Regions from separate parts of the Homo sapiens genome. Here all the other regions are linked to region 1. Evidence: fine-mapped expression QTL. A gene starts in region 1. Each other region holds a variant in brackets. All regions are shown on one strand. Distances are from middle to middle.

Evidence for each region. PIP is the estimated chance that this variant, and not a neighbour inherited with it, causes the effect.
Region 2: its variant is the best candidate, but not a certain one, in a credible set for the expression of SLC35F5 in whole blood (INTERVAL, PIP 0.69).
Region 3: its variant is the best candidate, but not a certain one, in a credible set for the expression of SLC35F5 in whole blood (TOPMed, PIP 0.75).

Annotation. Positions count from the first base shown.
Region 1 is chr2:113,753,444-113,760,867 of GRCh38, reverse strand. It overlaps SLC35F5 (solute carrier family 35 member F5), which reads left to right and starts at 4,226. Exons shown (of 16, transcript NM_025181.5): 1 at 4,226-4,498; 2 at 5,324-5,414; 3 at 5,562-5,703. The coding sequence starts at 4,459. RefSeq lists enhancers at 3,451-3,500, 3,681-3,860 and a silencer at 4,071-4,300.
Region 2 is chr2:113,724,188-113,731,611 of GRCh38, reverse strand. SLC35F5 (solute carrier family 35 member F5) reads left to right here. Exons shown (of 16, transcript NM_025181.5): 10 at 1-28; 11 at 2,107-2,211; 12 at 6,075-6,234. Among named protein-coding and RNA genes, the nearest start is that of MIR4782, 6.5 kb to the right of the region's middle. The variant T/C (reference allele first, on the strand shown) is at 3,742.
Region 3 is chr2:113,646,013-113,653,436 of GRCh38, reverse strand. No RefSeq gene overlaps it. Among named protein-coding and RNA genes, the nearest start is that of RABL2A, 22 kb to the right of the region's middle. The variant C/T (reference allele first, on the strand shown) is at 4,071.

The sequences.
Region 1 (7,424 bases):
TTGTAAGGTTCAAATTCAAAATAAGTCTTTTATATACGATAATTTTTAAAAATTGTCAACCTCAATCCATTTAATTACATCTTAGAAGGAAATCAAATCAACAAGCATTTGTCAAGCTGATCATGTGCCCAGCATTCTGGTAGGTACTGCAGAAAATAAGATGATATAGAGTACTCTTGTGACAGACTGAATATAGAAATGGACAATGACCAGAACATATATAAAAATAGAACTCTGACCTACAACCTCTCCAGGAACTAGTCCAGAAAGACAACAGCTATTTCTGCATTAATCATCCCAGGACTTGATCAACTGCCAGTTTCCTTAGTTTTTGTCCTGTTTCCAACTTAGGACCAACCAGAGAAAGCCAAATATGTATCCTCAACTGACCACATAGGATGCCGTGCTTCCACTTAACCTGCCTCCAGCCAGCAACATCAAATCAGGGCATACCTGAAGTCTTTCCTTTTTTCACATTATAAAGCTTTCACACTCTCCTGCCTGCCTTCCGATCTCTGAAAAACACAAGTGATGGTGGCTGACTGCTTTGCTACAGCAAGCTTTGAATAAATATCCTTTGCTTGTACTCATTTGAGTGTTCTCCATTTATTTCTGCTCTTGGAATTACAGAATTATTATAGGTGGTTTCAATTATTAATTTATACCCCCAAAGACTCAAGATATAGTCATTTATAATTTTATTAGGGCTGGGATTTGAATTATACTATTTGAGACTGATATATGGCAGTTAGTGACTGCCCTGTACACACATATGATTTTGCTTTTGTATTCACACTGTGACACATGCACCTTACTGGGGAAATTATATTCTCTAGAGTGTATTTTGGGGGATTATTTTGGAAGGCATTGAACTTAACACCTTATGTATCTTCAGGGCCTGCTATTGAGAAATTTCAAGAGTGATCGACTTTGAAGAGTAAAGAGGAAATTAATAAAATTAAAAGATTAAGCCTGTGGGACTTAGAAAAATAGTGCTACTCTGTTGACCTAAAAGGAAGAAGCTGAAGCAAAATTAATATAAGTAGAGTTAATTTGGGTCAAGCTTGAAGATTGCAACCTAGGAGCATATATTCAAGTTGCCTTGAATATACACACCATTAGCAGCCACCACAGGTGAATCTTTATTATTTATTTATTTACTTTGAGACAGAGTCTCGCTCTGTTGCCCAGGCTGGAGTCAATGGCACCATCCCGGCTCACTGCCACCTCCACCCCCAGGTTCAAGAGATTCTCCTGCCTCAGCCTCTGAGTAGCTGCGATTACAGGTGCGTGCCACCACACCTGGCTAATTTTTGTATTTTTAGTAGAGACAGGGTTTCGCCACGTTGGTCAGGCTGGTCTTGAACTCTTGACCTCGTGATCCGCCTGCCTCGGCCTCCCAAAATGCTGGGATTACAGGCGTGAGCGACTGCGCCTGGCCCACAAGGGAATCTTTAAAGGCAAAAAAGGGAACAAGGAGTGGGCTGATACCACGTTGTGTACAGAAATTCTTATTGGTTTATGGAAATAACATTTATTAGTGATTGGTTACATTGTTAAGCTATAGGATGTGGGTTATACTGTCCAATGGGACATTAGGTTAATTTATAGCTACTTGTGGCATAAGCAAGTAGTTTCAAGAGATGAATACATAGCACAAGGGAGAAGTAGGATGTGATTGTTGTCTCCTTTTAATGTCCCTCTGGGCCTGACAGTTTAAAATAACTACATTCCTCAGATAAAAATAATTTTCTTTTCTCACTACTAAATGACAGAAATGGAGACTTCAGAAAGGAATTAAGTATGAGGAAAAGATCAAGAGACAGCAGGATGTTCAAGTTCATTGAACAAACATTGACTGCCAGCTAGAGAATAGTAAGCACTATTCTAGATGCTGAGGATAATAGTGAAGAACAAAATAGACCAAAATCCTTGCTCTTGTGGAACTTATCTTTGAAATTATACAGCTGAAGATTTAGCCTTGGGTAACACAGAGAAATAAGGATGAAAAAAGGAATGCCTGAGATGCTCAGGATGGTGCCAAAGCACAGAAACACACTAGGGCCTATGTTACAGCAGTCCAGTGGAATTTCCCTTAAAGAACCCAGGGAAAAGACATTAATGGAAGTTGAACTATGTTTTGAGACTCGCTGAAGACAGTCTGCCAGAATTACTTTATCCGTTACAAGAATATCCACAGCTTGTCCTTTAACAGATGGTCTGGAAACAGGTGGTAATAATGGTAACTTAACAAAGTACTATCATTTACAATATTTTAATTCAGAAACCCATATTTATAGAAGAAACTAAGGCACAGTAGAGAGTGGAATGATCCTCAGGATTACATAACAAGTTGTAGTCAGATAAAGCATTGGTATCCAGCTTTCCTGACTCTTAGATTCTGAGAGAGATTTATAATGCTCTTATTTTTTAAGACTATACATCAAATATGTAGCATAAAGAATTCTTAGGCGTATTATGGGCTGATACCCTAAAGAATGCTAATGAAATAAAAAACAAACTGGTGCCAGACTAATGTGATTAATGTCTGCAACCAAATTTCCCCTAAGTAGTAATACCAAGTAGTTGGTTAAGGATTTATTTATTTATTTATTTATTTTGAGACGGAGTCTCGCTCTGTTGCCCAGGCTGGAGTGCAGTGGCGCGATCTCGGCTCACTGCAAGCTCCGCCTCCCGGGTTCACGCCATTCTCCTGCCTCAGCCTCCCGAGTAGCTGGGACTACAGGCGCCCGCCACCACCCCCGCCTAATTTTTTGCATTTTTTTAATAGAGACGGGGTTTCACCGTGTTAGCCAGGATGGTCTCCATCTCCTGACCTCGTGATCCACCTGCCTCGGCCTCCCAAAGTGCTGGGATTACAGGCATGAGCCACCGCGACCGGCCTGGTTGGTTTTTTTTTTTACTCTGCACAATAGGTTTCTGAATGACTTATTAGAGGTGTTTGATGCTGATAGTTTGAAACTGATTCGATCAATTAAAAAATGTTCATTGGTATTGTTTTATTAGTTGCTAGAATATGCATTCAACTTCACTGAAACGAGACTTAAAAGGTAAGAGGTACACTACATCGCGACTATAGGAGTAAGAAAATTTAATTTCTTCACGCCATCTGACCAAGATGTTAAATTACTGAACCCTTTAGTCTTGTTTTTGTTTTGTAGATAGAAATCAAGATGCTGGACAAACCTTTCTCATGGAATAGTCAAAATATTTAAGGAACAAATCTATACAGTTTAATAACTGCCAACATTTGGCAGGGCTCATGCCTGTAATTCCAGCACTTCGGGAGGTCGAGGCGGGCGGATCACTTAAGACTAGGAGTACGAGACCAGCCTGGCCAACATGGCGAAACCCTGTCTCTACTAAAAAATATAAAAATTAGCCGGGCATTGGTGGCTTGCGCCTGTAGTCCCGGCTACACTGGAAGCTGAGGCTGGAGAATCGCTTGAGCCCGGGAAGCAGAGGTTGCAGTGAGCTGTGATTGTGCCACTGCACTGCAGCCTGGGTGGCAGAGAAAGACCCTGTCTCAAAACAAACGAACGAACAAAAAATTGCTGACGTCTGTGAGGTTCTTATTATGTGCCATGAATTGATCTACGTCCTTCACATATGTAAACTCATGCAATCCTAGCATACACACAAAAAACCAATGTGGCAGGTACTATCATTATCGTAGACAAGGAAACCGAGGACCAGAGAAGTTGAAGTAGCTTGGCCTAGGATGTAGGTTGTAACTCCTAGAGCTGAGATCTTGTTTATATACAAAAGGTTTCAAGAATCAAAAGTACTCTAAGCCACTTTGCGTTTCGGCTGTCATCGAGAAAGGGATATCCGAAGTTTCAGGTTCGCAGTTTGTGAAACGGAACGGCCAGCTTTCGTTCTAAGGCGGGCGGAGGTTTAGCCACTCCCTCGTCCTTTGCTCTGCCCCAGACACCCACGCTCGCTTTCCTCTTCTTCCTCCACCTCGCCCTACTTCCCTTCTTCCTATCTTCTCTCTTCTTTCGCCTCGCCGCCGCGAGCCCTCGCTCGGCGACCAGAGCCTCGCATTACTTCCCCTAGCTCCGCCAAGCCTCGCTGCATACGCGACCGCGCGCAGTCCGCCGTCGCGCCCCTATGACGTCACCCGCGCGCCACCGCTTCCGGGCTGGGGACTGGGGGCGGGGCCGCGCGGAGGGCAAGCCGGGGGCGGGGCCGGGGCCAGAGCAGATCTCCGGGCCTCCGCGGCCATAGCTGACTGTGCCGTCCCTTCCCCTCACCCGCTCCACGCCCTCCTGGGCCGAGTGGAGTTGGGTGGTGTCGGGAGCCTCTCCCTGAGGGGCACCGCGTCTTCAGGAGCTGGGCCTCCAGTGCGGCGCGATGTCAGGCGCGGTGACAGCTCTGTGAGTCCGAGGCCGCGGCCGTGGCGCTGGGCGGCTGCGGGGCCTGACCGGTCCGCTCATGGTGCCGCCACGACGCCATCGCGGGGCAGGAAGGCCAGGTAGGCAGGCAGGGAAGGGCCCCGACATCACCGGAGCCCAAACCGGGACGGAGTGCCCACCAGCAGCACCACCTCCTGCCCTCGGTGGCAGCAGGAGCGCCTTGACCGAAACCGTGAAGGTCTCTAGGGGCGGAGGGAGCGGGAGCTGACAGGGGCGCCGGAGCCCTGCGCCCACCGCTGGCAATTGAGGAAGCCGTGCGTGCGCCCTCGCCTCGGCTCCCCGGGGAGGCGTCGCTGCCTTAACTGTCTTCCCCGCTCCAAAACAGAAGGATGATTTCTTTTCCCAGCTGTTTCTTTTAAAATGACTGGATGTTTTGATAGAGGTGGGTGGAGGAGCATGGAGAATCCTTTTCTTTTACCACTTGAAGAGATTGGAAAGGTGCCTTCAAGACCCACAGCAAATCACTTACTCTCCGATAACCAAATTCCACTCCAGCAGATCAGGGACAGAAAAGACACTTTTAGAAACAGTGTCTAGACGCTGTCCCCAGGGATGGATTCCTCTGGATGGAGAGGTGAATGGAGTTCCGTATTTGTGAAACTCAGAGAAGCTATTTTCTGGTAGTTAACTGTTCTTAAATGTGCCGTATGTTGTATATTACTCCCCCTCCCTGCCCGCCCCGTATCGCGTATCTCTCTAAGTATAATCTGAAGCGTGCAGTGGATACCATGAAAGTACTGAGAAAGGTGGCAAGTATGTTTAACACATTTTGGTCCTTTTCATTGATTTGCTTTGAGTTTGAAGATGAAGAGTAAAAAACGATGTGATGAATCTTACCTTGAGTTATTCACGTTTTCATAGCATAATTTCATGGTTGTTTTTAGGGGTGCTGAGTTCTTCACCTCCTTTTAGACTGAGATCTGCCAAGTTTTCCGGCATTGCTCTTGAGGATCTCAGAAGGGCTCTTAAGACAAGGTAGATTCCACGTTTATCCTCTATGTAACTTTCACACTGAACATTAGCTAACAAAAGTCAAATGTTTCTGTTATACTAATGTTCTCATTTTTAATGGTTGTTTTTCTAAAATCATCTCTAATGTGATCTGTATTTTCTAAAAAACAGACTGCAAATGGTGTGTGTATTTGTCATGAACCGAATGAATTCCCAGAACAGTGGTTTCACTCAGCGCAGGCGAATGGCTCTTGGGATTGTTATTCTTCTGCTTGTTGATGTGATATGGGTTGCTTCCTCTGAACTTACTTCGGTATGTACCTTTGGTCCAGGAATGATGTTACATTACAGCCACAATGTTAACTCTTAACCTGTAGTAACTCTAGCCGTTACAATCTCCTGCTTTCTAAAAGCAGTATCTTAAATACTATTGAATTTTTAAAAAACGTTGAATTATTGCCACTTGAAGTTAAAACTGAAAGGATGATCCTTTTTATTGTTTCATACAGTTTTCTTGTATCTTTTAGGGAGGGTTACTTAGAGAGACTATGCATATTTTCTTACATTTGAAAGTGTAACTCGTGGCTTTTTTTCTAAATTCAAATTCTTTCTGTAAATATTATTTTCTAGTGAAATAACTGTCAGGATGCAAAACAATGTCACCATTTAGTAGAAGGTTCAGAGTGCTTTTGGACAAATGAGTAAAAATAATGAGTTTTCATGTATAGGTCACTGTTACAATGCCCATGAGTGGTTGCATCCACATTTATGCTTGCTGACTCAAACCTTATTATAAGATGCATGGTATACCTCATAATTTTCCTTCAGTTAAATTGTATCTTGACAGTTTCCTTCAGTTAAATTGTGTCTTTATTGATGACCTATTGGTAGTAATGTGGCATTTTGAATTTGCAAGCTAGTTTTTCTTTCTACTTGTATACTTTATTCTGCTTGGTTAATGATCCCTATAAAAAGCAACTTTTATTTTCAGAAGTCTGCATTTCAACTTCTACGTTGCAATTTTAAGGCGAATATACAGCAGGAAACTGGCATTTATAAAATGAACCTAATTTTCAAAAGAAGCAGTTTAATACTCAGGTCTCATATTGTAGCTAAGTAAATATTGACATTGGCATTGTATCCTATGAGTATATAAGTTTTTTTTTTTTTTTCTTTTTTTTTTGAGATGGAGTCTTGCTCTGCTCTGTCGCCCAGGCTGGAGTGCAATGGTGCGATCTCGGCTCACTGCAACCTCCGCCTCCCGGGTTCAAGGGATTCTCCTGCCCCGGCCCCCTGAATAGCTGGGATTACAGGCACACCCCACCACGCCAGGCTAATTTTTGTATTTTTAGTAGAGACGGGGTTTCACCATGTTGGTCAGAATGGTCTCAAACTCCTGACCTCATGATCCGCCCGCCTCGGCCTCCCAAAGTGCTGGGATTACAGACGTGAGCCACCTCACCTGGCCAAGTATATAAGTTTTTATGCTTTTCAGAATTAATCTCTGGAATCTAATAGACCATATATTTTTTGCTTTAAAACTCTTCTCTAACCTTCTTTTAGATGAACATTTTGTACTTCTACCTCAAAGAAATGTCTTTGATATTGACAGGGAACTAAACCTATCTTTTAAATTTTATTTTCATTTAAAATAAATAGTTTGTTTTTATATATTAGTTAATAAAATTTAGGACAAAATAGCACCTGGTTAAATTATCATTTAACCATATCTAAGCAAAGTAGAAAGGAAAAAACAATTTGTTGTTTGTGGTAATCATTTCACAATGTATACATATATCGAAACACCATGTTGTAAAAAATACATATATTTGGTGTTTGTCAGTTGTACTTTGATGAAACTGGAGGAAAAAACTCAACTTACCTTAATTTTTTTAAAGTAAAATATTTTAGTAAGAGGATGTTTTACAATCTCATTATTCAAGAATGTATGTAATGTCTCTACTTCTTCAACCAGTTATGCTCATTAAACTTTGGAGATAGGGCCAGGCGCAGTGGCTCACGCCTGAAATCCCA
Region 2 (7,424 bases), 29 kb after region 1:
GAAAAACCTGCTGGAAGAGACACAGTAGGTAAGTACTGGACTCTGGATTCTCTCTGTTAGAGTAAATAAGAAAGTTACATGTGCGTGCTCATGTGCACAGATGAACGCACAAAGGGTAGGCACTAGCAGGGTGGGTTTTTTTTGAACTTTTCCTTTGGAAATAACATAAAAAAATGCGTAAATAGTTTAGTGAATTCTCATAGCCTTCACCCAGATTTTTCAAATGTTAACAACTTACATAAATATTATACAGTTATAAAAATCAGAAATTAACGTTGATTATGATACTGTTATCTATAAAGCCTTTTCAAATTTTGCCACTTTTTCCACTAATGTTCTTTTTCTGATCTAGGATCATTTATTGCATTTAATTGTCGTGTTTCCTTAGTTTCCTTTAAATGCAGAAGTGTTCCTCAGTCTTCTTGTCTTTTATGACCTTGACACTTTTGTAGGGTACCACCTAGTTGGTTTGTAGAATGTTCCTCAATTTGCATTTGTCTGACATTTTCTTTGGTTAAATTGAGGTTGTGCATTTTTGGTAAGAATATAATGGAAGTGATATTGTTTCCTGATCAGTGCATTCTACCAAAAGGCACATGATATTGATTTGTCCTGTTGCTGGTAATGTTAATTTTAAGGTGGTTAAAATTAACCACCCTACTCCAGTGTAAAGTTACTAATATTTCCCACTGTAAGTAATAAGCATCTTGTGGGGGATACTTTGAGGCTATACAAATTTCCTGTTGCTGTCATATCTTCACCCACGAATATTGCCATTTACTCTTGATTCTTGATTCATAGTTACTGCTATGGTGAACACTTAGATTTTGATCCATTGCTTAGACTTAACAAAAACAAAAGTAATCAGAACCTAGCTGGGCTGAGCATGGTGACTCATGCCTGTTATCCCAGTGCTTTGGGAGGCCAAGGTGGGAGGATCGCTTGAGGCCAGGAGTTCAATACCAGCCTGGGCAGCATAGTGAGACCTCATAATAAAAAATAAACCTAGATTAATTATTTCTCTTTGAATACTTCTTTAGATATTTGAGGTTTATTGAATAGAACAATGCTTTCTAAATTGTTCCTAGCTACTACCCAGTGAGCTGTGCTTTGAACCTCCTCACCTCTTTCTCACCCAGAGCAGCTTTGTGTATATAAAACAATATATGTATTTGGTATGTGCATGTGTATGCAAGATTTTGTTGACAGGCTTTTCCTTAGCTTTAAAAAAAGTTTGAAAATAATAAAAAAAATTTAATAAAACATTCGTCTTTTGAATAATTGATTAAAGTATTGAATATGACCACTTGGCAGAACATTATTTAGCTGTTTTGAAAAGTTTAAATGGTTTTGAGAGTTAATAAAGAGAATCAGTATTTATTATTCATGTACTGTGAGATCTGTATTATGTTAGCTGTTTTGGAACATTAAAAAGTATAAATTATGTGTTTGCAGTTTTCAAGGAGTTCTTGATTTGGAACAATATGAGATTTATAAAATGAAGCTACTAGGGATTAAACTAATACCACACTTGACAATAGTAAGTATTGTCTAAAACAGAAGACAGGACAGAAATACAGCCGATTAGAAAGAGGATGCTTTGTGGAAGAAATGGAACTTTAACAGAGCCTTTAAGATGGGAGTGGTAGTGCAATACATATTAAGAATGATATATGGGGGTAAGGAAGACAATACAAGCAACAGCTTAGTGATGGAAAAAAAATTTGTTAAGTTGGAAAATGCCAGGTGTCAAGATTGTTTAGGTAGGGTAAAATAAGAAACATGCATTTCTAAATTAAAAACAAAGTGTTACTTTGGAGTTGTATTATTATAATATGTATAGGTTTTGGTCGAATCATTGAGGTGAATGCTTTTGCATTTATTTGTTAACACATTAAACTCCTTCCTGTACTCCTAGAAGACTTGGATGGGGTAGGCTATACCTTTTCATTATATATCTTTATATCAATATAAAGGTGATTTATATCATTATATATCTTTTCACTTTTGTATATTCTTGCAATATTATCTGACACATTATTGGATTTTAAGCGTATATTGAATGAGCTAATGAGTGATTGCTTTAAATCATGTCCATTTTTACAGGTTCCATTTGGTCTCTTGCTGGAGCCATGCTCTATGCTGTCTATATTGTTATGATTAAGAGAAAAGTAGATAGAGAAGACAAGTTGGATATTCCAATGTTCTTTGGTAAGAATATATGTAACTTGGGAGGCTATTTACTCTAAATGATTAACACAGGGTTTTGCTTTTGTTTTTCAGAGGGAATAGGGAAGCCTTTTTTTTTCTTCCGTATGATTCTTTAAAACCATTTAAAGATTATGAAGGCCAGTCCCAATGTTTTCCTTACTTTATCCTGCATAGTTGTGCACCTATGAGGGAGTGCCCATCTCCTCAGTGTGAGACAGAAAGAAACTCCTAACACTTTTTTCAAATTGATGTCTTCAGACTGCAAGTCAGATATTTATCTCACTGATAGGACAGATTTATGCTCTTACAAGCATGTGAGAGTTTACCTGCTGTATTTTACATTTTGCCATTTTTGAATAGTTAGCAAAGGACTGGGGAGACTGCCCCCGAATTATATGTTTAATGCTGTCGCAGTCTATGTACTTATGTACATTAAAAATTGTGGGCCATTTAAATGCTTTTCATTTGCATTTTATCTTTAAGACACAGACACTTTTATAACATAGATTCATTCTCAAATTACCCAATTATAGTTTCTGGATATGGTTTATAAATTTTCCTTTGCCTGACATCAGTTCAGGAAAGAACTTGCGATATCTGTAGGACTGGAGAAGAACACATTGACAAGATAATCTTTCAAAAGATATCTGAATATAAATAGATAAAGAAGCTCCATGATAAGAGTTCAAAGTGCAGCTTACAAGGAGTCAGGAGACCTGGAATCCAGCTGTTGTAACTTTATTTATCTCATAGGCATCTGAAATATGAGGAAATTGGACTAGATGAATGGCCTCTAAACTGTGATTTAGGGAATAGGTAGGCTTCTGGGATGGTTGGAAGGAAATACAGTTGCATGCAGGGGTCTAGTTCTTGGACTCCTTTGCTGCTTCACCTGTGGAACAGCTCTACTTTGTTGAGCATTTTGCATTAGAATTTAATTTATAGTAAAGATTTTTCTTATGGCTGGGCATTGTGGCTCACGCCTGTGATCCCAGCACTTTGAGAGGCTGAGGCAGGAGGACTGCTTGAAGCCAGGGATTCAAGATCAGCCTGGGCAACATAGGGAGACTGCATTTCTATTTAATTTTTTTTAAAAAAAGACTATTTTAAAACTATTTTAAAACTAAAAATAGATTAAATACTTGTACCTAAAGACTAACAAAAATAAAATGTTTGAAAAGCCATGAGGCTGAATGATTGCTTAAATTCTTTTTAAATATAGAATTCAAGAAATATAGCATAATAGCCAGGTTTGGTTACATGTGTTTGTAATCCCAGCTGCATGAGAGGCTGAGGCAGGAGAATCACTTGAGTCCAGGAGTTCGAGTCTGCAGTGAGCTATGATTGTGTCTCTGCACTCTAGCCTGGGTAACAGAGTAAGATGCTGTCTCTTAAAAAAGAAAAGATAATTTTAATGATATTTTATTTGAGAGTCATAGAAAATTTTATTTGGAATGGAATAAAATGCTAGTTTTTTTTAGTGTTATAGGTAGGTGGTTGGGTCAGTGGTACTTTTTAAAAATTTATACA[T/C]TGACAACTTGCAAGAAAAATTGCTTAATTTACTCATATTAGGGAGAGTGCATATAGACATGTGGCTTGTGTTGGTCCTGTTCATATGTGATGTGATATGTAAAGCAATATTGATCTGCCCTGGGCTTTAGAATAGACAGGATTCGGAGAAGTTAGGATTGGGATGTTGGGGGCTCTTCAGGCAAGGGAGTGTGAGCAGAGGCTTAACAGGGAGCAGTGAGTAGATCTGAATGATTGTGCTGGAACTTCGCTTTGTGGAAGAAGAACAGAAAGGCATGTGGCGCCAGATTCTGGGCAGTCGAGGGAATAGGTGGGGTCATTGGGACTTTTGTCTCTAGGTCAAAGGATGTTAATTTACGTGGGATTTCATAGACTCAGCACTTCAGGGACTAGAAAATAGATTTAGATCTTGGTAATGCCACGTTTTGGTGTTTCATTAAAACAACTTTGTAATGTTATTTAAGCATTTTAGGTCGTGTCCTTGCTGTATATGTGTTCTTTTGTTGTTGTTTTTTTAATCAATAGATGTAAGTTGGTGTATTAGTCTGTTTTCACACTGCTATAAAGAACTACCTGAGACTGGGTAATTTATAAACAAAAGAGGTTTAATTGACTCACAGTTCTGCATGGCTGGGGAGGCCTCAGGAAACTTACAATCATGACGTAAGGTGAAGGGGAAGCAAGGCATGTTTTACACACTGGCAAGAGAGAGAGAACTTGAGAAGGGGGAACTGCCAAACACTTTAAAACCATCAAATCTTGTAAGAACTCACTATGATGGGAACAGCATGGGGGAAACCACCCACATGATCCAGTCACTTCCCACCAGGTCCCTCCCTGACACGTGGGGATTACAAGTCAAGATGAGATTTGGGTGGGGACACAGAGCCAAACCATAATAGTTGGGCTCCCTAAAACAGGATATGAGATGGGGAATTTGTGTGGGTGATTTTTTGTGGGGAGTTCACTGAAGGAAAAACTTGCAGTGAAGGAAGCAAGATAGAGAAGGGGAAAGAACCGTGTGGCGCACAAGTATAACTGAGGTTTGGCCCAATTCATTGCAGGTACTGAGGCGGGGAGCAGAGGGAGAGCAGCTAATATGTCTGGGCCTTGAGTCGTGATGGCTGGCCTCGTAAAGCCTCCATCAATTAGTCATGAGCTGCAGAAGATGGGGTGGAGTGGAGGGTGGGAACTTGCTGGGAAAGGCAGACTTATTTGCCCCCCTTCACAGAAGTGGGGTGGCTGTGAGTCTTTAGCATCAGACAGAGAGTGGGTGCTCCTGCCCTGTTAAGATTTAACTAGGCATCCTAATGACTGGTTTATTATTTAGGTGACATAGTAAGTATCAATTATATATCTACTGTAATTTAATTTTCTTTTAAGAAAGCTATATAGTTACATAAATCATATAGCAAATTTGTGACATAAACTGTATAGGAAGTACAACAAAATTTATTATAGAATTGTAATCTTTTTTCTTTATATTCTTTACTTTTACATGTATATAGTCATATATAAACTTAATTTCTATAATAATATTAGCTAACTTTTATTAAGTGCTTACCATGTGCCAGATACTATGCTATATTTTATGTGTTTTGTCTAATCTTCCCAGCAACCTAATTAAATATTATTAAATGTTATTTTATGCTTATAGATTGGAAAACTGAGGCTTAAAGAGGTATAAGGCTTGCACTACTATTGAGTGATATATAGAGCTGGGATTGGACCCAGGCAGTCAGATGGCCGAGCACACACTTAACCACTAGTCAGTCTGTACTTTGCTCATACGTTGAATAGCTCTTTGTGTGTACATACTTTCTCACTAACTAGTTAGAGGTCTGGGAATGCAGGAACCAAGAGTTTTATCTCCTTTGGAACCTTCTTCCATTATTGCTCGCAAAGCACAAGTGTTTTGGACATAAATAATTGAATCAGAGAGCAAACCATCTAATTCCTCAAAATTAATTTAGGCTGAGTACACAAACACATACATACCAGTTATTTCTTTTAAGTTCTAGGGCACTATATTATCAGTAGCTAAGGTTAACAACCCTTCTTGTTGAGTTGTCCTAAGTGGTTTATTCCATAGTAGTTGCTCCCATACAATGTGGGTAGTTGAACTGAGTGATCACCAGTTGCTTCAGACAGTTTTTTTTTCTATGGCGTTGAGCTATTCACAGGACTGACTTAAAAACAAACCAACAGAAGTTTTAGCTAAGGAAACCTCCCAGAGTGCTTTTGTGCAAAATCTAATTTTGATTTTAGAGTTAATAAGCTTGGAAAATAGAAATAAATCAATTTTAACTCTTGTCTCTTTTATACATGTTCAGGTTTTGTAGGTTTGTTTAATCTGCTGCTCTTATGGCCAGGTTTCTTTTTACTTCATTATACTGGATTTGAGGACTTCGAGTTTCCCAATAAAGTAGTATTAATGTGCATTATCATTAATGGCCTTATTGGAACAGTACTCTCAGAGTTCCTGTGGTTGTGGTATGTACTGTTTATTCTCCAATTATTATCAGTTGATTAATTTTTGGATATTTTAAGCATTTATATTTGTCTGTTTGCTGGTGGCCCTTCCTGTGCACCCCATTCTGCAACACACATACAACTGAATACTTTAACTCCACTAGAGCAGGGACTTTGTTTTTTAACTTCTGTGTGCCCATTCTAGAGTAGTACCTTGTCCACAGAAGGAGCTCAATAAATACTTGTTGAATGAAAGAATGAATATGAATGGTCTAAATCTGTAAAAATGTTTTAGAAAGTGGAGTGTTATGCAAATGAAAGTAGTCATTATCTAATGGATATCCAAACATATGAGGTATGTATGCCAAGTATGAGTGCATGAGTTCTAGTTGAGAATCCAGGAGATGCTGCTTATTTAAGAGGCTTTGGAATATCTGTTTGCTTGTTCATAGGTGTTTTTGTTTTATTTATTTTCAGAACCTTTCATATGGGTGAGCCAGATATGTAAACCTTAAACTCTGATTGATTTGAGATGTTAACATACTTTGATATGCTGTATATCCAATATACTGATATGCGATAATAAACTTAAAATAGTATGAAGACAGTATCATGTATGGAGTTTGAGAGACCTTTCAAATAACAGAGCTTTATACTTAGTCCTATTTTTATTTAATAGAAACTTGAAATGAATAGAATGAATAAAACCTAAGTGAATAAAATGAGTTTTATTACATACCCATTGAAACTGCTAACTAGTTTTCCCTTGCAAAAGACTGCAACAGAAATAGACTTTTTTGTGGAGTCTTCCTTAATGCTCTGCCTACAGTGCTGTCTCCCTGCCCAGTTAAGAAATACCTATTTTCTTGGTATCCCCCATATCACTCTCTTTTGTGTAATACTTAAAGATTTACTTTGTATTGTAGTAATTTATGTTCTTATCTAAACTCCTTTGCTGATCTAAAATTCTTTAAAATCATAATCCATTTGCTCATTAATTTTTTCATCTTTAGTTATGTACATTTTAGATACTCGATTTTTTTAACCTTAACTATTAACAGATGACAAAAGGCTTTAGCCTTTAGCTAAATTGGATCCACCTTAACAGCTGGATTAAGTCAAACAGGCTTTATAATTCTACCTCCCAGGTTTTTTATTATAGTACTCTGCATGATAAACATCCAAGAACATATGCTGTATTTGACCCCGAA
Region 3 (7,424 bases), 110 kb after region 1:
TGCGTCCTCTGAGTCATGAGCTCAGGGTATCTATTCATTTATTTAGGGTACTGCGTCCTCTGAGTCATGAGCTCAGGGTATCTATTCATTTATTTAGGGTACTGCGTCCTCTGAGTCATGAGCTCAGTGTATCCATTTATTTAGGGTACTGCGTCCTCTGAGTCATGAGCTCAGGGTATCTATTCATTTATTTAGGGTACTGCGTCCTCTGAGTCATGAGCTCAGGGTATCTATTCATTTATTTAGGGTACTGCGTCCTCTGAGTCATGAGCTCAGGGTATCTATTCATTTATTTAGGGTACTGCGTCCTCTGAGTCATGAGCTCAGTGTATCCATTTATTTAGGGTACTGCGTCCTCTGAGTCATGAGCTCAGGGTATCTATTCATTTATTTAGGGTACTGCGTCCTCTGAGTCATGAGCTCAGGGTATCTATTCATTTATTTAGGGTACTGCGTCCTCTGAGTCATGAGCTCAGGGTATCTATTCATTTATTTAGGGTACTGCGTCCTCTGAGTCATGAGCTCAGGGTATCTATTCATTTATTTAGGGTACTATGTCCTCTGAGTCATGAGCTCAGGGTATCTATTCATTTGTTTAGGGTACTGTGTCCTCTGAGTCATGAGCTCAGTGTTTCCATTTATTTAGGTTACTGTGTTCTCTGAGTCATGAGCTCAGTGTGTCTATTCATTTATTTAGGGTACTGCGTCCTCTGAGTCATGAGCTCAGGGTATCTATTCATTTATTTAGGGTACTGTGTCCTCTGAGTCATGAGCTCAGGGTATCTATTCATTTATTTAGGGTACTGTGTCCTCTGAGTCATGAGCTCAGTGTATCCATTTATTTAGGGTACTGTGTCCTCTGAGTCATGAGCTCAGTGTGTCTATTCATTTATTTAGGGTACTGCGTCCTCTGAGTCATGAGCTCAGGGTATCTATTCATTTATTTAGGGTACTGTGTCCTCTGAGTCATGAGCTCAGGGTATCTATTCATTTATTTAGGGTACTGTGTCCTCTGAGTCATGAGCTCAGGGTATCTATTCATTTATTTAGGGTACTGCGTCCTCTGAGTCATGAGCTCAGGGTATCTATTCGTTTATTTAGGGTACTGCGTCCTCTGAATCATGAGCTCAGTGTATCTATTCGTTTATTTAGGGTACTGTGTCCTCTGAGTCATGAGCTCAGGGTATCCATTCATTTATTTAGGGTACTGTGTCCTCTGAGTCATGAGCTCAGGGTATCTATTCATTTATTTAGGGTACTGTGTCCTCTGAGTCATGAGCTCAGTGTATCCATTTATTTAGGTTACTGTGTCCTCTGAGTCATGAGCTCAGTGTGTCTATTCATTTATTTAGGGTACTACGTCCTCTGAGTCATGAGCTCAGGGTATCTATTCATTTATTTAGGGTACTGCGTCCTCTGAGTCATGAGCTCAGTGTATCTATTCATTTATTTAGGGTACTGCGTCCTCTGAGTCATGAGCTCAGGGTATCTATTCATTTATTTAGGGTACTGCGTCCTCTGAGTCATGAGCTCAGGGTATCTATTCATTTATTTAGGGTACTGCGTCCTCTGAGTCATGAGCTCAGGGTATGTATTCATTTATTTAGGGTACTGCGTCCTCTGAGTCATGAGCTCAGGGTATCTATTCATTTATTTAGGGTACTGCGTCCTCTGAGTCATGAGCTCAGGGTATGTATTCATTTATTTAGGGTACTGCGTCCTCTGAGTCATGAGCTCAGGGTATCTATTCATTTATTTAGGGTACTGCGTCCTCTGAGTCATGAGCTCAGGCTATCTATTCGTTTATTTAGGGTACTGCGTCCTCTGAGTCATGAGCTCAGGGTATCTATTCATTTATTTAGGGTACTGTGTCCTCTGAGTCATGAGCTCAGGGTATCTATTCATTTATTTAGGGTACTGTGTCCTCTGAGTCATGAGCTCAGTGTATCCATTTATTTAGGGTACTGTGTCCTCTGAGTCATGAGCTCAGTGTGTCTATTCATTTATTTAGGGTACTGCGTCCTCTGAGTCATGAGCTCAGTGTATCTATTCATTTATTTAGGGTACTGCGTCCTCTGAGTCATGAGCTCAGGGTATCTATTCATTTATTTAGGGTACTGCGTCCTCTGAGTCATGAGCTCAGGGTATCTATTCATTTATTTAGGGTACTGCGTCCTCTGAGTCATGAGCTCAGTGTATCTATTCATTTATTTAGGGTACTGCGTCCTCTGAGTCATGAGCTCAGGGTATCTATTCATTTATTTAGGGTACTGCGTCCTCTGAGTCATGAGCTCAGGGTATCTATTCATTTATTTAGGGTACTGCGTCCTCTGAGTCATGAGCTCAGGGTATCTATTCATTTATTTAGGGTACTGTGTCCTCTGAGTCATGAGCTCAGGGTATCTATTCATTTATTTAGAGTACTGCGTCCTCTGAGTCATGAGCTCAGGGTATCTATTCATTTATTTAGGGTACTGTGTCCTCTGAGTCATGAGCTCAGGGTATCCATTCATTTATTTAGGGTACTGTGTCCTCTGTGCCATGAGCTCAGTGTATCTATTCATTTATTTAGGGTACTGCGTCCTCTGAGTCATGAGCTCAGTGTATCCATTTATTTAGGGTACTGCGTCCTCTGAGTCATGAGCTCAGTGTATCTATTCATTTATTTAGGGTACTGTGTCCTCTGAGTCATGAGCTCAGGGTATCTATTCATTTATTTAGGGTACTGTGTCCTCTGAGTCATGAGCTCAGGGTATCTATTCATTTATTTAGGGTACTGTGTCCTCTGAGTCATGAGCTCAGGGTATCTATTCATTTATTTAGGGCTGCTTCAATTTCTCTCAGCAATGTTTTGTAATTTTGAGTGTGCAGGTTTTTCACATATTTTGTCAGAATTATTTCTCAATATTTCGTATTCTGATATTCAATTGTTGACTGCCAGTATACAGAAATACAATTGATTTTTGTGTGGTTCCCATGTATCTTGAAACCATGCCAAGTTCATTTATTAATTCTGGTGCTCTGTAGCTGCCACTGGATTTCAACATAGACAATCAAGTCTTCTGTGAATAAAGACAGTGTTATTTCTTTCTTTATTTTTGAGATGGAGTCTCGCTCTGTCTTCCAGGCTGGCGTGCAGTGGCACAATCTTGGCTCACTGCAACTTCTGCCTCCCAGGTTCAAGTGATTCTCCTACCTCAGTCTCACGAGTAGTTGGGACTACAGGCATGTGCCAGAACGCCTGGCTAATTTTTGTATTTTTAGTAGAGATTGGGTTTCACCATGTTGGCCAGGCTGGTCTTGAACTCCTGACCTCGGGTGAACCACCCAACTCGGCCTCCCAAAGTGCTGGGGTTACAGGTGTGAGCCTCCACGCCCAACCTTATTTATGTTTTTCTATCTGAAAGCCCTTGTTTTTCTTGCCTTATTTCACAGTACAATGCTGAATGGAAGTGGTGAGAGTGGACATTCTTGTTCCTGAGCTTAAGCATGAAAAGCTTCAGTCTGTTGCCATTAAGTGTGATGTTAACTGTGGGTTTTTCACAAATACCATTTATTAGGCTGAGGATATTTTATTCTCTAAGAAAAATATAGAGGTTTATATTTTTGCTAAGAGGTTTATATTTTTATTTTTTACACAGTAATGAGTGTTGAATTTTGCCAGCTTTTCCTACATTTATTGAGATGATCATGTAATTTTTCTGTTTTTACTTAGTTAATCTGGTGTATTAAATAAACTATTTTAGAACAACTTTAGATTTATAGTAGTCACAGATTGTTACAGATTTAATCCTCTAGTTTGAGACTATTTCTCAGTCTTTCTTTGCTCTTATATGACCTTGACAAATTTGAGGGATAGTTAGGTATTTTGTAGAATATCCCTCCATTTGAATTTGTGTAATATTTTTCTCATGATTATATTGGGATTATGAATTTTGGGAAAAAGTCTCATAGAGACAAATTATCCTCATCACATCCTATCAGGAGTCTACAACATACATATGACAACAGTGATGACATTAACCTTGATCCGTTGGTCAGGGCAGTGTTTTCTGGGTTTCATCACTGTT[C/T]GCTTTCTATAAGTGCTTCTTTAGAAGTGAGCCACTCAGTCCAGCCCATTCTCTGTAGTGATGGTGGTTGGGGGTGTTGGCTCCACCCCCTGCAGATGGCAGGAGTTACACATAGTATTTTTAATTTTTCTGTATGAAAGATTTGTCTCTTATTATTCATCTATTCATTATATTAGTGTAGATCCCTAATGTATATTTATTTTATACAGTGGACTATAAACCAATATGACATTATATAATTTGTTGCTCACATTTTTCCAGCTTTGCCCATTGGGAGCCCTTTCATATTGGCTCTTGAGTCCCTTTGACATGCCTTCATCATTTTTTAAATTAAAAAATTATTACTAATTTATTTTTATTTTATGGAGATAGGTTCTTTCTATGTTACAGCCCAGGCTGGTGTGGTCTTGAACTCCCGGCCTCAAGCAATCCTCCTACCTCTGCCTTCCAAAGTGCTGGGATTACAGGTGTGAGCCATTGCACCCGTGGCTTCATTCCCGGCTTCATTTAATTTGTTGAGCACATCCTTCCTTTCTGATATAATAGGTGCTACAGGCTCATTTTGCATTTCCCCTGCTTCAACCCTGGAATCCACCATTTCTCTAAAGTAATCTGGTTTTTTCACTGGAAAGTGTTTTTTTAGAAACTAAGATCTGGACACTGGGTGTGCTTGTCAATACTGAGATGTATTACTTCTAAGCCCTCAAAGCTGGATGAGACAGTTAGGTAATATATGTTGTATACTAACCCATGTACACACATGTATCTATTATTGTTTTTGTATCTATCCATTTTATATATATATAAAGCTAAATGAGAGTTCACGATAATACTTTCACCTCTTATCCAGTACCGCAAGATTTAGTTTATCCTTTTCTTGCTTCCAATACTTTTTTTTTTTTTGAGACAGAATCTTGCACTGTGGCTCAGGCTAGAGTGCAGTGGCGTGTGATCTCAGCTCACTGCAACCTCCCCCTCGTGGGTTCAAGCGATTCTCCTGCTTCAGCCTCCCGAGTAGCTGGGACTATAGGCGCCCACGACCACGCCTGGCTAATTTTTTGTATTTTTAGTAGAGACGGGGTTTCACCATGTTGGCCAGGCTGGTCTCGAACTCCTGACCTCGGGATCCGCCCACCTTGACTTCCCAAAGTGCTGGGATTACAGGCGTGAGCCACCGTGCCCAGGCCCATTAATTTTTTTTTTTTTTTGAGACGGAGTCTCACTCTGTCGCCCGAGCTGGAGTGCAGTGGTGCGATCTCAGCTCACTGCAAGCTCCGCCTCCCGGGTTCATGCCATTCTCCTGTCTCAGCCTCCCGAGTAGCTGGGACTACAGGTGGCCGCCACCATGCCCGGCTAATTTTTTTTGTATTTTTTAGTAGAGATAGGGTTTCACTGTGTTAGCCAGGATGGTCTCGATCTCCTGACCTCGTGATCCGCCCGCCTCGGCCTCCCAAAGTGCTGGGATTACAGGCGTGAGCCACCGCGCCCGGCCCCATTAAATAATTTTTAAATGTTTAACTGACATTGCACTCCTGGGATAAACTCCACTTTAGTCATGTGTATTATCCTTTTAATATGCTGCTGGACTTCTCTTATTTATTTATGTATTTATTTTATTTAGAGGCAGGGTCTCATTCTGTCATCCCAGCTGGAGTGTAGTGGTGCAATCATAGGTCACTGCAGCCTTGAACTCTTGGGCTTAAGCGATCCTTTCATCTCAGCCTCCCTAGTAACTGGGACTACAGTCATGTGCCGCCACACCCAGCTAATTTTAATGTTTTTAGTAAAGACGGGGTTTTGCCATGTCGGCCATGCTGGTCTTGAATTCCTGGCCTCAAGTGATCTGCCCTCCTTGGCCTCCCGAAGTGCTGAGATTACAGGCGTGAGCCACTGCACCCACCCACAATTAATTTTAAAGTATTCTCGTTACTTGAAAATCTGTACCCTTAGCTTCCTGGCCCCCACCAAATTCCTTCCCAACTTCACCGGCAACCCCCCCACCCTAAACAACCACTATCTGTTATTTTTGTCTGTAATCTTTCTGTTCAGTAATCTTTCTGTCTCTGTAGATTTGCCTGTTCTGGACATTTCATATTAATGAAATCGCACAACCTGCGGTGCTTTATACGTGGCGTCTTTCATTCAACATACTTTTTTTTCAGTTTCATCCATGTTGTAGCACATATTAGCACTTCATTTCTTTGTATTTTTGAGTAATATTTCATCGTGTGGATATACCACATTTTATGGATATTTGGATTATTTCCAGCTTTTTGGTTATTATGGATAGTGCTGCTATAACCACTCATATACAAGCTTTTCTGTGAGCACATGTTCTCATTTCTCTTGAGTGTATACCTAGGAGTAGATTTGCAGGATCATATGGTTAACTCGATATTTCACCATTCCAGGACTGCCAAACTGTTTTCCAAAGTGCCTGCACTATTTTACTTCCTCCTCAGCAGTGTATAAGGGTTCCGATTTCTCCACAGCCTCATTAACACTTGCTATTATCTTTTTCATTACCAGTAAGTGGCATCTCATTCTGGTTTTGATTTGCATTTCTCTCATGACTAATGATGTTGAGCATCTTTTCATGTACTTATCGGCCATTTGTATATTTTCTTTGGAGAAATGTGCATTTGCTTCATGTATTTTTAAAAACCATTTTATCGATATACATATTTAAGGTATACCACTTGATGAGTTTGAAATAAGTATATACCCATAAAAACGTCACCACAATGAATGCCATAAACATATTCATCACTTCAAAAAGTTTGCTCCCTCTCTCTTCATTTCTAATTCTCATGTTTTGTGATAAGGACACTTAACATAAGATCTATTTCCAGTAAATCTTTAAGTATGTAATACAGTGTTGTTAACTATAGTCACTATGCTGTACAGGAGGTCTCTAGGACTCATCCCTCCGGCATAGCTGAAGCTTTGCACCCAATGAGCAATGCCTGCTTGTTTCCTCCTCCCCCTAGCCCTTGGCAACCACCATTCTACTCTCTGCTTCTCAGTTTGAATATTTTAGATTCCTTATGTAAGTGAGATCATGTAGTATCTGTCCTACTGTGTCCGGCTTCTTTAACTTAGTATATTTGCTGCAAATGGAAGGATTTCCTTTTTATTTTATTTTATTTTATTTTATTTTGAGACTGAGTCTCGCTCTGTTGCCCAGGCTGGAGTGCAGTGGCGTGATCTAGGCTCACTGCAAGCTCTGCCTTCTGGGTTCACGCCATTCTCCTGCCTCAGCCTCCCAAGTAGCTGGGACTACAGGTGCCCGCCACCATGCCTGGCTAGTTTTTTTTTTTTTTTTTTTTTGTATTTTTAGTAGAGATGGGGTTT